Regions from separate parts of the Homo sapiens genome. Here all the other regions are linked to region 1. The links come from fine-mapping of genetic effects on gene expression. A gene starts in region 1. Each other region holds a variant in brackets. All regions are shown on one strand. Distances are between the middles of the regions. Region 1 holds the start of EVC (EvC ciliary complex subunit 1). Region 2 overlaps EVC (EvC ciliary complex subunit 1). Region 3 overlaps EVC (EvC ciliary complex subunit 1).

Evidence for each region. PIP is the estimated chance that this variant, and not a neighbour inherited with it, causes the effect.
Region 2: its variant is the best candidate, but not a certain one, in a credible set for the expression of EVC in fibroblasts (GTEx, PIP 0.71).
Region 3: its variant is the best candidate, but not a certain one, in a credible set for the expression of EVC in esophagus muscle (GTEx, PIP 0.55).

What each region holds. Positions count from the first base shown.
Region 1 is chr4:5,708,591-5,713,694 of GRCh38, reverse strand. EVC (EvC ciliary complex subunit 1) reads right to left here and starts at 2,494. Exons shown (of 21, transcript NM_153717.3): 1 at 2,141-2,494. The coding sequence starts at 2,314. It also overlaps a transcript of EVC2 not described here. RefSeq lists enhancers at 851-1,160, 1,746-1,815, 4,577-5,104 and silencers at 2,286-2,435, 2,486-2,535, 5,047-5,096.
Region 2 is chr4:5,754,808-5,759,807 of GRCh38, reverse strand. EVC (EvC ciliary complex subunit 1) reads right to left here. Exons shown (of 21, transcript NM_153717.3): 11 at 3,446-3,544. Among named protein-coding and RNA genes, the nearest start is that of EVC, 46 kb to the right of the region's middle. RefSeq lists enhancers at 489-538, 207-1,406. The variant A/G (reference allele first, on the strand shown) is at 2,666.
Region 3 is chr4:5,743,052-5,748,051 of GRCh38, reverse strand. EVC (EvC ciliary complex subunit 1) reads right to left here. Exons shown (of 21, transcript NM_153717.3): 7 at 2,711-2,848. Among named protein-coding and RNA genes, the nearest start is that of EVC, 34 kb to the right of the region's middle. The variant T/C (reference allele first, on the strand shown) is at 2,701.

The sequences.
Region 1 (5,104 bases):
TTTTTTTTTTTTTTTTTTGAGACGGAGCCTTGCTCTATCGCCCAGGCTGGAGTGCAATGGTGCGATCTTGGCTCACTGCAACCTCCGCCTCCCAGGTTCCAGCGATTCTCCTGCCTCAGCCTCCTGAGTAGCTGGGATTACAGGCTCCTGCCACTATGCCAGCTAATTTTTGTATTTTTAGTAGAGGCAGGGTTTCACCATATTGGCCAGGCTGGTCTCGAACTCCTGACCTCAGTTGAACAGCTCGCCTTGGCCTCCCAAAGTGCTGGGGTGACAGGCATGAGCCACAGTGCCCAGCCTGGGCATTATCTTTTGCAGGCAGCCAGGAGTCACTGGAGGTGTTTAATCAGGAGAATCATATTGTCTGACATACATTTTATAAATAAAAACTAGAGGGAGGAGACAGGAGGAAAAGAATCTCATTAGAAAGAAGGTTGTCGCAAGGATCACATCAAACTGTAACAAAATCCTATTAGTCCTACTTTGAGCCACAGACCCCTCCATGGCTGCCACCCTGGTCTGAGCCACCATCACCCTCAACTGACTAGCTGTGCAAACCCAGATGGCTTGGTTAATCCCGGTAAGCCTCAGCTGACTCAGCTAGCAAATGGGATACTAACCACCACCTCACCAGGTAGCAGATACTTAAGGCTCTAGCTTTGGGGTTCAAACCAACTAGGGTTGAAATTCAGTCCCACTGTTTACTCATCGTGGCACCCTGGACAAACACCCTTGCAGAGCATCCCCTGCCTCACTGTAAAGTGGGGATAATGGCAGTTCCTCCACCTCATGGGCTGGAGGATAAAGAACCAGATGTCTATAAACATTGCACAGGACACCCAGCCAAGTCTCTGTGTGTTACTTCCCTTTCTCTCTCCATGCAACAAGCCAGCATCTCTTAGTGTCTCTTAATCACCAGCAGGATCTGACAACCCCCAACTCACCTACGAGCATCTTGCATTATCTCAGTTTCAGCCCTCATCAGCTCTTTGCGGTGTAATGCTCCCCATGAGTCACCAAATTCCCCTATATTCTGAAAGAGCCTGTGCCTACATGGAAACCGCACAAGATCTGTCTCATCTTCCCACGGGCCAGAAATGGGGGTAGCAAGACCACGCCATCTTGTTTCTGATCGCGCAGACTTTACTCTCCTCCCACCCCAAAGAGGCAGAAGTTGCAAGGACCTAAAATAGTGGCCATACCACTATTCATGGAATGCCTGCTATATGCCAGGTGTTGCCATGCACAGCCAATTCCATGAGGGCCACTTGCATAGGAAGCATCCACTGGTCTCCTTCAGGCAGCCACCCCGACCCTCATCCATGAAGAACACAGTGGCTTTGGGGTTAGACACTTCTGTCACTTTAGTAAGTTGCTTAACCTCTCTGTGCCTCAGTTTCCTCATCTGCAAAGCAGAGACAAACTGTTGTGGAGATTCATTGAGATCATTTAGGGAGAGGGTCTAGTTCAGTGCCTGGTACACAGCACTTAATAAACGCTAGCATTGCCAGCGTCCCATCGCAGACTCCCCATGCGGTGTCATAACCGATAGTTTACTTGCAAACTTGCAATTCGTCCTTCTCCTTGAGGTTCACAGCCTCAAGGCAGGGTCTCTCCCGCTCATGAATGTCGTCCCTAGGCCAGTGACTGGCTGTAGAAGGTGCCTGAAAACTTTTACTGTGGGGTGAATGAAAAAATGAATGCCAATGTGGCAGCTGGGACTCAGGCCAGGCGACGTAACCCACACCGCAAGGATGGAAGAGGCAGAAGCAGGAATAGGCATTCAGGCGTGGGAGCCCCAGCCGTCCTTCTGTCCACCATGGCGAGCAGGGCCAGCGTCCTGTCCAAACCCTTGGTGCTGCAGATGAGGAGACCGAGGCGTGGCGCAGTTGGGCTGCTGTCAAGGATCACCCAACGGAGTGGGATGTAACAGGCACCGCAGGGGACCCCAGGCCAATGCCCTTTAGTCACGCCGCCACCTCCCTCCTGGAGCAGAAGGGGAACCCGACGCCTAAGCGGTTGCGTGCGAAGTTCCCAACCAGGCTCAAGGAGTCGCAGAGCCGGGGCTCCGGGCCCGCAGGACCCAGAAGCCACGCGCCCCGCGCTCCCCGCCCCGCCGCTGTCTGCTCGGCCGACCCACCTGGTGTCGCGTGCGCTGGCGGCCCGCGCGGCAGCCAAGCCAAAGGCCGAGGCCGAGGCCGAGCGCGGCGCCCAGCAGCACGGCGGGGGCCAGCAGGGCGGGCGCCGGCCGCAGCGCGTCCCGCCCCAGCAGCAGCCGCGCGTCGCTCTTGCAGGCCGCCCCGCCGCGGGCCATCCGGGGCGCTCAGGCTGCCGCCCCGCCGCATCCCGCCGCCTGCTGCACCGTCCCCGCCAGGGCGGCGACGCGGGACTTGGAGCCCGGGCGGGCCAGGGGCGCGGCCCGCTCCGCAGACTTTCTGGCCTGTGCAGTCTCCCGACTCCTGCTTCTCTCCCCTTCCCTGCTTCGCCGAGCCGGAGGGAGGAGCCTGGATCACCGCTCAAAACTTTCAGCCACCCCCGCCCCAGCCCTGCCCCTGCACTGAGCATGCCCAGAGACAGACGCGCCTCCCAGCCCCGGACCCTTCCGGAGGGGGGCCCGGTTTCCACCCCTTTAACTTTACTGAGGCTTAGAAGGCTCCTTTAAGTTTTTTGAGGCTTAGAATATGCTACGCATTTAGCTTAATGATCTCATTAACTTTCTCAATAACCCTCTGCGGTGGGTGCTCCGCCCATCCTCCTGATGAAGACGCTGGGATCAATGCAATTCCAACCCCCTGCCCTTGCCCCTAACCTCTACCCATCAACCTTCCCGGGAACACACCGCCCTCCACGCCTCTGAACTTGCTCACGCGAAGACTCCTGTTTTAATCTTATTTTGTCCCAGGGAAGGTCGAGACAATGGGTGGAGACACCGTTACACTCAGTCTCCACTAGGAGGATGGGTAAAGGGATCCTTACACCCAGACCCCACTGAGACGATGGGTAGAGAGACCCTTACACCTAGTCCCCACTAGGACCAAGGGTAGAGAGACCCTTACACCCACTCCCCACTGAGACAATGGATAAAGAGACCCTTACACCCGCTCCCCACTAGGACCAGGACACTGCACCATCCTTCATTTACTCAGCACTTGGAGAGAATCTGTTGTGTGTGTGTTGCAGGCTGGGGGATAGGCCAGCCACAAACCAGGCAGTGTCCAGGCTAGTGAGTATCTCACAGTTGTTTAGAGTGATAAAAAATTAAAGGAGTTCATCACTGTGTTTGCTTTAAACAAACATTTATGGGGTAGCTACTAGATGTTTGCTTTTGTCCTGGGTGCCTGGGTAAAGCACACATGCACATGCACGACTGCACACTTGCACTCAGGGGCACACACACACACACACCTACCCTGTGGAGCTTAATTCCCTGTGTGGGCCGGGCTAGGGGACACCATGGGGATCTGCTTCAGCAGAGGAGGGCTTTGTCCTTTCAGCCTAGATGTCCAGCTTGTTTCTAGTTTGTTTCATCATTTCCTCATGGCAAGATGGGAACTGTTATCCAAATTCTTCATCTTTTTTTAATAAATGAAGAAACTGACAGCTGGAGAGGAGAGGTGACTCATTTGCAATTAAGGAGTGGGGCAGAATTCTTGTCTCATTTACACCTGTGTCTGGCTTCAGGGCAAACTCTCTGCTATGTGGAGCTTCTTATATATTACCTTAGAAGCATCTCCAAGGTTCCTGGGGACATGTATGGGGGCAATAACTTGACGCTCTTGTTTTACATTTCCATGAATGCTTAGGCTTTAGTTTTTAAAATGTGGTGTTTGGGCCAGGTGTGGTTGCTCACGCCTGTAATCCCAGCACTTTGGGAGGCTCAAGTGGAGGATTGTCTGAGCCCAGGAGTTTAAGACCAGTCTTGGCAACATAGTGAGACCCTGACTCCATAAAAAATACTAAGGAGATTTTTTAAATGTAGGGTTATTTGCTTTTTACTTTATCATAAAGTTGTTGACTATTAAATTAACCTTTAAATGACTGACTGTCAAACAACTCCAACGGTCCAGCAACATGCTTGGCATTTAGCCTGTGGTCTTGTCACATGCCTGACAGCTGCCACGTACCCCCTGGTGTGGGGAACTTGGCTTATAAATTCTCAGCTTCTCGAACCCCATGGCCTTGTCCATGTTAGGTCAGGAAAGGCCTGTCCTTGGATGGTCTGGGTTATGGGGAGAGAGGCTGCCAGGGGCCAGGCTCGCTGGCCTGAGACTTTATAGACAGCCTAACAGCCTGCCCCGCAGGAAGGCTGGCGGGAGTGGAGCCCTCCCCCGTCAACAGGTGTCAGCTGTCACCCAGGACCTAGGCAGGGATGAGGAAGCACACAAAAGGCTCCACCAGTCCCCCTTTTTGTGTCTTTCTCCTCCTCCTCCTCCTGCGTCCCTTGGCAAAGCAAATCCCTGTCCCCTCGGAGAGTTCAGGGAGAGCTTGCTTAGGGCTGCGACTTCAGACACCAGCTCCCCTCTTTCTAGGTCCCCAGAGAGGTGGCCCAGCGGCTGGCCTGTTTCCCACTGGGAATGCGAGGGGCACCCGGGCCGGCCCAGGGCTGACCCACAGCAGGCTCGGGCAGTGGGTGCTCAGCTGGTCTGCACTGAACGCAACCGGAAGTGAGGGTCCTTTTCCTTCTCTGCGGCCACCCCCTCCTCCCCGAGCTTTCCTGAACCTTCTGGGTGCTCCAGGACTCCCGGCCCCGCGCTCCAAATGCTTCTCCGTTTTCTAAGCGGGGATGGGGAAACTCTGGATTCACATCCGTGTGTCAGGAAACCGTTCCCAGGGGAAGTGCGTCTGAGCTGAGGCTTACAGACCCAGGTAGGCGGTAGCGGAGGGGCCCTTGGGGTCCTGGTAACCTCGGGGAGCAGGGGAGTGACCCGCTCTGATTCGGTTTGGGCGCAAGCAAACCCAGGCCTGGCCGCCGGGCGCCTGGGCCGCGCCAACTCGCTCTCCCCCTCCCACGCCCGTCCGGCACCTCCTGGCCCGCCAAGCCCCAGATGCGGGTGTTTGTTCCAGAAAACTTTCGGCGGCGGCTCGCACTGAGCATGCTCGGCGG
Region 2 (5,000 bases), 46 kb before region 1:
GCCTCAACCTTGGCAAAATAAACTTTCTAAATGAACTGAGACCCGTCTCAGATGTTCTGGGTTTACATTTATATACTGCTTGGCTTACCCTTTGCAGCAATCATTGATAGGGTTTTACTCAGGCTGTCAGCCTGGTTGTGTAATTGTGAGCAAGTGATCTAACCTGTACCTCAATTTCCTTAATCTTGATGACATTCTGATGCACAGCAAGGTTTGAGAACTGCTTTAGAGAGGATGGGTGAGAATCCAATAAGCTACCATAGGGGGTGAGGAGGAGAATGCTGCTGAAACCACCCCCGCCGCCCATAGCCTCTGGGCCACCTGGGCTCACCTCCGGCAGGGGAAATAAGTGGCCCGGCTGGGAATTTGAACCCCAGATGTCTGGCTCCAGAGCCTGGGCTTCACCATTATGCTCCACAGCCCACACGTAAGGCAGGATAGGTAGTCAAGGAAGTGACCATGTCCTTGGGATGCGGCGACCAAACCATCAACACAGTAAGCCTCAGCATTTACACTGTAGTCTGGCTCTTTCAAGCAGTTATCTGCAGTAGGCAACGTCTCCTGCAGTCGGCAGGTGCACTTTGATTTTATCTGTCCTCAGACTGACCCTCTGCGCCATTATAATAGTAAAAAACACACCTTTGGACGGAGACTTAAGATGCTAATGAGACATGTGACGTATGAACAAGTGTGTACAGCTACTGTGCCTGGGCACTCAGAGGACCCGCCCCCACCGCCCTCCACAACATGCTTACTAATAATGCTTCTTCCCACGCCCTTATGAATAATCACATAAGACTCCCCAGAAAGGGAGTTTCCCCGGTAAGTCAAGGCTGTCTCATCTGCTCTGAATCATCTCCCAGGGCATCCTGTCTATTCTGCACCTAACTTTCAGAACATTCTTTCTCCTTTGCAATAAATTGCTCTGTGCTGCATCCCCTTTACTGTGGTCTCTTGTTTACATACTTTTAAACTAAAAACACAAGAAGCGAGGTTTCACAACAGCCGTCAACACTGAGCAGCATGGTTGGGGTGAGCACATCAGCACTAACATTAGAAAGCCTTTATTTTAAATCTCACCTTCCCCGCTTGCTAGCTGTGTAAAACCTGGGCAAGATACATGGGCCAGCACAGACAGGTTATGTAACCAGCCAAGGTCACACAGCATGTTAGCACTCAGAGGAAGATTAGAACTTGGTTTCCCCATGCCCAGCCAGGGATGTGAGTCTTGACTCCTCTGGGGACAAAGTTGTTCCTTTCCTGTCTGTGGGCCCCAGGGCTTTGACAAATTGAGCCCCATCCTACCCATTTCTGGAGAAAACACTTCTTCACTCCTCATCTGGGAAGGAAGGAAAATGCAGTGTCTTCCTCATGAATCTCATGAGAATTAAATAATCAAATACTCAAGAGGCACTTAAGATAGGAGCTAGCCCTGAACAAAGATCGCCTTCCGTTTAGTTTCCTGTGGCTGCCATGACAAAGCGCCGCAAACTGGGTGCATTAAGACAACGAAGTTTATTCTCTCACCGTTCCGGAGGGCATTAGTATGAAACCAAGGTGTTGGCAGAGCCTCGCCCCCTCCAAAGGCTCTGGGAGGGGCCCTTCCTGGGCTCTTCTGGCTTTTGGTGGCTGCAGGTGTTCCTCGGCTTGTGGCTGCATCACTCCAGTCCCTCCTTCTGTCTTCAAACAGCCTCCTTCCCTGTGTCTCTATGTCTTCTCATGGCCTTCTTATAAGGACACCAGCCATTAGAATTAGGGCCCACCCGAATCCAGTAGGACCTAACCAACTGTGCGATCTAACCAATTACATCTGCAAAGCCCTTATTTCCAAGTGTGGCCACATTCCGAGGTTCCAGATGGACATGACGTTTTGAAGGACACTGTTTGGACTAAATTGTGTCTCCCTCCAAAATTCTTAGGTTGAAGCCCTAACCTCCAATATCCCATGTGACTGTATTTGGAGGTAATTAAGTAATCAAATTCTTATGTTGAAGCTCTAACCTCCAATATCCCATGTGGCTGTATTTGGAGACAGGGCCTTTAAGGAGGTAATTAAGGTTAGATGAGGTCATCAGGGTGGGGCCCTAATCCCATAGAACTGGTGTCCTTATAAGAAAAGGGAGAGACCAGAGCCCTCTCTTTCATTCTCTCCCCTGCCCTTCAGTCTTCCAAGCACAGAGAAATAACCGTGTGAGGAGGCAACGGGAAGGCAGCTGTCTGCAAGCCCGGAAGAGAGGCCTCACCAGAAGTCAATCCTGTTGGCACCGTGATCTCGGGCTTCAGCCTCCAGAACCTTGAGAGAACGCTTTTCTGTTGTTTAACCCACCAGTCAGTGGTATTCACCACGGCAGCCCTAGCAGGTTAACAGAGACATGACTGACCCCAGTGCAGCTCCCATCCGGGTGAGGAGTTGCACTTCCCACCACTGCATGAGCTTCTCCCTGATGGGGATGCCCGCTGACTCCTTGTCCACTTGGGCCTGGTCTCATCCAATGCTTGGCTCAGCAATGCCTCCTACAGGCTGCTGTCCTTGACGTCACCTTCACCCAGGAGCCCCTTGCCTCTCCTCTGCACTCAGAAGCAGGGAAGCTGTCACTGGAGACAACGTGCCCTGGGGTGTTCCGAGTGCCAGCTGCTGTCTCGGGTCCCCAAACACAGTCCTCCT[A/G]GCACACCATGAAGAAGAATTATGACTGTCCCCATTTCACAGATGGGGAAACTGAGGGCTAGAGGCCAAGTGATGCTCCTGTGGTCACGCAGTGAGGAAGCGGGGAGCCAGGACACAGACCCAGGCCCTCTCCTCCTCCCAGTGCTGCCCAACACCCACTGGTTGATTCCTTCATAGCCAGGTGTCCACACTCCTGTCTTTCCAACAACTGAGGATGCTGCCTGAGGCAGGGGCTCTGTCTGGCTCAGCATGGCATCCTGTGACTCCTGCCCCTAAAGAGGGCTCAGGTGCCCTCTCCTGCTCTCTGAAAGTCACCCTGCAGGGCAAGCATGGCCAGCTTCACCTCCCCACCCCAGACCTGCACACGGTTGCACAGGGGAAAGAGGTGGTGTGGCATGTGATCTCTGACGTCCCCATTTCAGCCCAGAACCCCTTCTTCATCACCACTTTACACTGATGACACCCAGAAACCCTGGGCCTATTTCTCACCTGGGGAGAACGGATTTCCAAAGAGCTTTGCTGACAGGGATGTGTGGAGATAAGAATCCTCAGCACCCCAAAAATGGACGGTGCCTCAGAGAGGACCAAGGCCAACTGCCTCGGTTTCTGATGTGGGCAAGGAGGATCGCATGGAGGGGACACAGCCTGCGTGGATCACCGGCCAATGAGTGCGGGGTTGGACCTGAACCACCTCTGGGGTCCCCAGCCAGGAGGATGTGAGGTTCTCGCACACACACAGACCCTGGGGCTTCTCTGCTGGTCCCCACAGAGGCCATGTACCTGGCAGAGTGCAACCACAGCCTCGGTGGCTCTGACATTCTCCTCTTCCTCCAGGTCACACTGCATCAGCCTCTGCCTCTCCAGGACCTCATGAAAAGCCTGTGAGGAAAACAAGAGCTGAGTCTGGTAGAAACATGCAGGGTTTTTTTTTTTTTTTCCAGAAGGTTCTCCAACCATCCCCTGCATCTCAGGTTAGAAAGAAGGATGTTGGCACCTGTATTACACACAAGGAAACTGAGGCATGGGGCTGTCACATGGCTTTCACAGCTGATGCCAGGGTCAGCAAATCCGATTTCCAGGAAACACCACAAACCACCACGCTTTTGTTAAAGCCAGGATGAGGAGGGGCCACTGGACCACTTCTGTCACTCCTCTGTCCTGGCTGCAGCCACCCAGACATCACTTTCTGACCACCCAGGCCATGGAAGACCCACTGATGGGAACCCAGCAGGGGTGACACAGACTGGCGATTGGAGGTCAGTGCAGTCAGCAACCAGCCAGGCCCCACTGTGACCACGGGGTGGAGGCCCTTCCCTGAGGACCCCAGCAGAGCAGCAGGAGACTGGGCTAACCCGGGCATCAGCAGGGGGAGACCCAGCCAGCCCTAAACAGAGCATCAGCGAGGGGCGAGGTGGGGCAGAAGGACAGAGGAACAGACCCTTCTCAGGGAAGGGTTGCAGGAGAAAATTCCCTGTTGGGGAGATGTTTCAATGGAGTCTCTAAGGACAAGGAAGGACTCCTTGGAGGGAAGATGGGGAGCCAGGCTCAGCGAGCAGCAGCAGAGACCAGGAGGTAAACCCCCTAAGATCTTTGGTGATGCTACGGGCAGGAGGTGAGATGAGAGAGAAGGGCGGGACTGGAAAAAGGTGGGTGCTGAGTGTGTACTGGGAGCCTGGTGTCGTTCGTTCATTCTCCCACCCATTCCATCCTCCTTCATTCGCTCGTTTGCCCATTTGTCCATGTCCTGGTTCATTCAGGCACGCATGCGCTCATTCACCCTTCCCTGCCTGCGTCCCACGTGTCCTGAACGCCAGCGCTGAGGCGTTCCGAGGACTGTACCGAGGCCCTGGGACACCAAGGTCACCCAGGCACTGTCTCCACACTCTGGACTCACACTGGGCTCTGTGACATCAAGGACAGGGGCCCAGAAATATCCAAATAACGAGGAGCTGAATAGCCTTATCTTCCTCTTATTTCAAATGGGTCTCAAAGATAGAAAAACCTACCCTACCCCTTTGTGGCAAATGCAGAAGCTCCAAGTATGGGCCTGGAAGAGGCCCCCTGGGTGAGGGAGGCAGCTGGACCAGGGACCTAGAGGCCTGTCCTCTGTTCTCGGGGGACCCCTCCATTGGCTTCTCACTGCAGTGGTGCCACCACCACCAGCTTGGCCCCCAGGGAGAGCCCCTGGGCCTCTATTCTGGGCTGAGCCTGGACCCAGACATGGTGCCACCCACCCCTTGGCAGAACTGAGATGTGCTGTACCAAGTGTTGACGGAGGGCAGGCGGACCCAGGCAAACAGTGAGGCTGGGGCTGCCCCTTCCTTGGTCTCACTGA
Region 3 (5,000 bases), 34 kb before region 1:
CAAACAAAGATTCTAAACAATTCTACAGTTTCAGTGAGTTTATCTTGGCAACAATCACGTTCTACAGTGAAGTTCTTTCTGGTTCCATTGTCTGGTTCCAGTGTCAGTCAGTTTTGCAATGGTGTTTCAGCAGACACGAGAGCACTGCTGCTAAGGAAAGAAAGCAGTAGCTTGTCCAGCCTACAGACTCTTGCACAGGTCATTACAGCTACCTAGGGGCCGATGAAATGTGACAATGTGCTCATGGAAGCTTTGGCAATTTTAAATGGGATTAAATACTTCCTGGAAGTAAAAGCATAAACAGATGTTTAAATATTAGTTATTGTCCTAAAAGTACAAAAGCTTAATATGGCAGAGAGGATGCTGACCATGAAAACATTTTGCTTTAAAATCTTCCCTCCCCCTCATTTTATCAGGAGCAGAGCTGGGAATTCCCAAGTGGCTTAGAATGCAGGAGGTTTAATTGAGTCATCACAGCCAGTCAGAGCTCTAAGGACAATGACACTAGGAATCGGAGCAACTTTCCCTCATGGCCCACAGGCTGTTCGCCAGGCTCTGTGCTTCACACATTTGATATCATGATAAAGTATGTATCTAGAGGTGTAGGAACAGGCTCGGGGGAGTTAGGTCACTTGTCAGAGGTCATGGACCCAGTGAAAGCCCGGATTTGGTTCAGGTCCATTTAACTCCACGGCTGAGGTTGCCTCCATCTTGGCTCAGCCTCTGAGAGGCTGAAATGGACACTTCTGGCTGGACTGGGCATGGGAGGGGGCAGGGGTTAGTGTCACCAGAAACCCATGATTTTGTTGCTGTGACTCAAGATCATGAAACTCTGTCAGCCTCAACTGCGGTGTCGGTCTGGCTCTGCCAGGAGGAAGCCTGCACCCAGATGAACACCCCTCATCAATGCGGCTCCCCATCTCAGGGCCCCATTGCCTCCCAGTAAACCCCATACATGCTGCTCCTCCTCTCATCCCTGCCAGGAGGGACCTCAAACCTGCCTGACACCCTCAGGCTCTCACCCTGCTCTTCCCCTTGGAGCCATCAGATGACCTGCCTTCCACCTGCCACGTGACTGCAGACTGTCACCTGCCAACTCTACACAGCCCGCTCTGCTTACAAACTCCTGATTCTCTTGGCGTCCATGACATGATTTTCTCCTGCTTCTGCAAAGCCCATCCAATTCCTCCTCTGCTTTCTTGTCCCAATTCTTCTCATCCGCTCCTCCTTAAATATGGGCAGGATCCAGGATTTGGCACCAAAGCTCTTTTCTCTTCCCATTTTACACACCATTTCTAGGCCAGAGGTCACCATTTTTGGAGGTCACCAATACTTTGGAGAATCTTATGAAAATTCTGAACCCTGTCCCTGAGAAAGGCAGACATGGACAAGATACTGCACACAGCGTTGGGGGTTCTGTGGACCACCGGAATCCAGGCTGGCCCTCTTCCTTAGCATCCTGGCCCACAGTTCTAAGAACATTCTGGCCCTCAAAGTCCTCTAACCTGGGCTCTCATGGAGACCCTCCATCTCCAAGCCTCTCCTCTCAATATTGGACCTATTCAGAGGACAGGAGCATTGGCTCCCTCCCTCCCATGAGCATCTTGCTCTGGGGCGCTTATTTCAGCAGCACTGACCCTGGACCCCCTCCTCCTCCCCACCTGCCGCCCCATGGTAGACCACCACAGCTTCTCTCACACGTTTCCTCACCTCTCCATCCTACTGCAGTTGCCTTAATAAAGTTCCTGCTGGATTAGCCCAGTAGCTCTTCACCACCCTCCACTCAGTGCCTGGGCAGCCCTTCTAAAGCAGAAGCTGAAGCCAGCCACCCCCTGCTTCAAAGCTTCAGTGACTCCCACCTCGCTGGCAATAGACACTCCCATCTCGCTGGCTTAAGACACAAACAAGCCCTCTGGCCAGATCCCTCTGGCTTTACCTTACCTCGACTTGCTCTCAGCCCTCTTTAGCTCCCATCTCTGCCCCACCACTGGCCAGCACCCACACTTCTCCCGGCCAGCCTCTCCATGGTCCCTTCTTCTACGGAGGCTTTCCTAAGCCTGGGGTAAAATGAACTCTTCCCTCCACTGTGCCTGCCTCGGGCCTTCTCCTGTGCTTCCTTCTATCACAAGATGTGTCACTCTGTGAAGCCCTCATCTGTTCACCTGTTTGTCTCTCCTGGCCTCTCTCAGGCAGGGCCATGTCTAAATGATTTTTGAGTCCCCAGTGCCCAGCACAATCCCTGGTGAAGAGCAAGTGCCAAGGACATGTTTGTTTAATACATAATATATGAACAGGGGGTGGTGGAACCCAAAAGAAAAGAAAAACGATGTTTCAGAGAAGCCATTCTGTCTGGAATTTAAAACTTGCTTTCACGAGTGATGCCTAGCAGCTTTCTTCTACTCTATTCCAAAGGGCAGTGATGACATCAAGGGTTATAGCAACCTTTGCTTTGAATGATAAAAAGACCAATCTGAAATTTAAATGAGGATAATTCATGATATAAAAAATAAACCTCCCTTTGTGAATCTTTGCTGCTTAATTACTTCTTCCCTATCACTTAGCATCAGAAACTGGATCCTGCCTCTAGGGCAGAATGCGATAGGGGAATTCAAGTATTAGGCACACTTCTAACTATCATCTCTCTAATGTAGCCAATTTAACTGTTTTAGGAACCAAAATTTGTGTACAGGAAAGAAAGTC[T/C]GGCACGCACATTATCGATTAGCTGTTCAGAGTATTCTCTCTCCTTCTTTTCCACATCAGCCAGGGTGATGTACTCAGAGTCACCAGCCCCCGACATTTCTGTGTTTGACAGTTTGACCTGAAGTCCCTTTTCTAGTTCCTCCAAATCCTGAAGAAGAAGAAGAAAAAAGAAAGCAAATAAACAAAGAAAAAGTTTAGCGTGTCTTAAATTCTAGAAAAATAAATGCTTTTATTTTTCAAATTTCACAAAATATTTTTAAACAATAGTTAAATGCTCTGGGGGTTGTTGTACATGAGGTTTGACCCATTTTCTCATTAAACATAGAGCCTCAAGAATAATGGATTATTTTCCTCTATATCCTCCCTCAAAAAAAAAAAAAAAACTAGACCATACTTTAAAAATCAATAAAATAGTATCTTTCAATCATTATGAAGTCCTGGAAAATATCATGACATCCAGTGGGTTGGGAAGGAATGTTTCTTTGCTCCTCTTCTGGTTTTCCTGGGAAAGAACAACACCCCAGGGCAGGAAGTGGTGTGTATTTGATTGGTTGGTTTAAAGGCCAGAAACTTGCCCAGCCTCTTCCTGTTTGTGATGGGCCAATCAGGGGAGGCCATTGCTCTGGTGTGATATCAGCCTAGAGTGAGCTGGGTAGCCAAGGCCCTGTTTCTGTGTGGGGAAGCCTGAGGTGGCCCAGCATTGCCCGTGACTAGCTAGGCAATTGAGTGAATTCTGGGATTCAGTATTAGGAAGCCATGATAGCTGTGCATGTAAGCCACATCGTCCAAGCTGGCCTCTAATCAGTAACAAAGCTACATTTCTATATCTGTCCTCCTGACTCTCTCAAATGATTCTGAACTCAGGAAGGAAAAGGTGAGTCCTAAGTATAGACTCACAAACCCCAAGATAGTGTGTGGGAGGCAGTTCTATTTTCTCTATATTCATTGTCACATAGCCAACAGTGTGGCATGGGTCAAGGTTCACTAGGAAAAATAACATTGATATAAACTACTATTGAAGACCCAAGCTGAGGCCATATGTGATTTCTAATCCTCACGGCATCTCTGTGAAAGAGAAATTATGACCCATTTCCAGGTGAGAAAGCTGGTTTATGGAAGGTAAGATAGTTTGTCCAAAGATGCCCAGGCAGGAAGGGGCAGTGCCAGGCTTGTCCTTACTCTTCCAAATTCTGGGCACTCCTTGTCCTCTTCTGAAAGTTTTAAGGTCATTCCAAGTGTTAAATGAAATTATGCATTTAAATCACTTGGCTAGCCTATCTCAACAAATAGTAGCCACTATTATAATTAACATGCTTGCTTAAGTTCAGACAGCCTTGTTTAACTCGTAGAGATGGAATTTGATCTGAGGTCTGCAGACTCCAAGGCTCTTATTCTTTCTATTATAACAGACAGTATTGTTTCATTATTACTAATACCATTATAAATGTCATCATCATCATTATCATTTTTGCCATTGGAAAGTCATTTGAACTTATGGAGTCTCAGTTTCTTCAGCTGTAAAACAAAAATAACAATGGCCACTCACAGGGCTGTCATAACTATTAAATGAAATAATGTATGTCAAGCACGACGTGCACTGCCTGAGGACCATGACCATGGTGGTGATACTGAGGATGACAGTGAAGATGATGATGTCCTTCCTCCTTCCTGGGATGCAGTGAGTCATCCTTCCTCATGGAATCCAGTGGAGTAAAGAAGAAACATTCCTTCCCAAACCCCCAGATCTCACAGTGGTAGGAACAAGGACGATGACGATGACAATGAGGACTCTAATGAAGGTGAAGGTAGAGGTAGCAGGAAAGATGATAAAGGTGGTGATGGTGGTGCTGATGAAGATGGTGATGATGGTGGTGCTGATGAAGACTATCACAACAATGATGCGATGACGATGGCAGTAATGAAAATGATGACAATAACAATGATGATGATAATGAAAATGATGGCAGGGGATGATGAATAAGAGGCTGGTGATAGTAGTAACGAGAATAATGATGACAATGATGGTGAGGATAAGGTGAGGTAGGAGACTGGCAGGACTTGTTTTCTGATCACAACCCTGCTGATCAAAATGGGATCTGGTCCAGACAGGATAAAGTGAAGAAACCGGCAGGAACCAGTGGATGGTGATGAAAGTGATCCCTTGCTGCCCTCATTGCTCATTAGCATAAGACACTCCCACCAGCACAACCACAGATTACAAATGCCATGTCAACAACCCAAAAGTTACCACCCTTTTCCATGGCAACAACCCAGAAGTTACTGTCCCCTTTTTAGAAAGT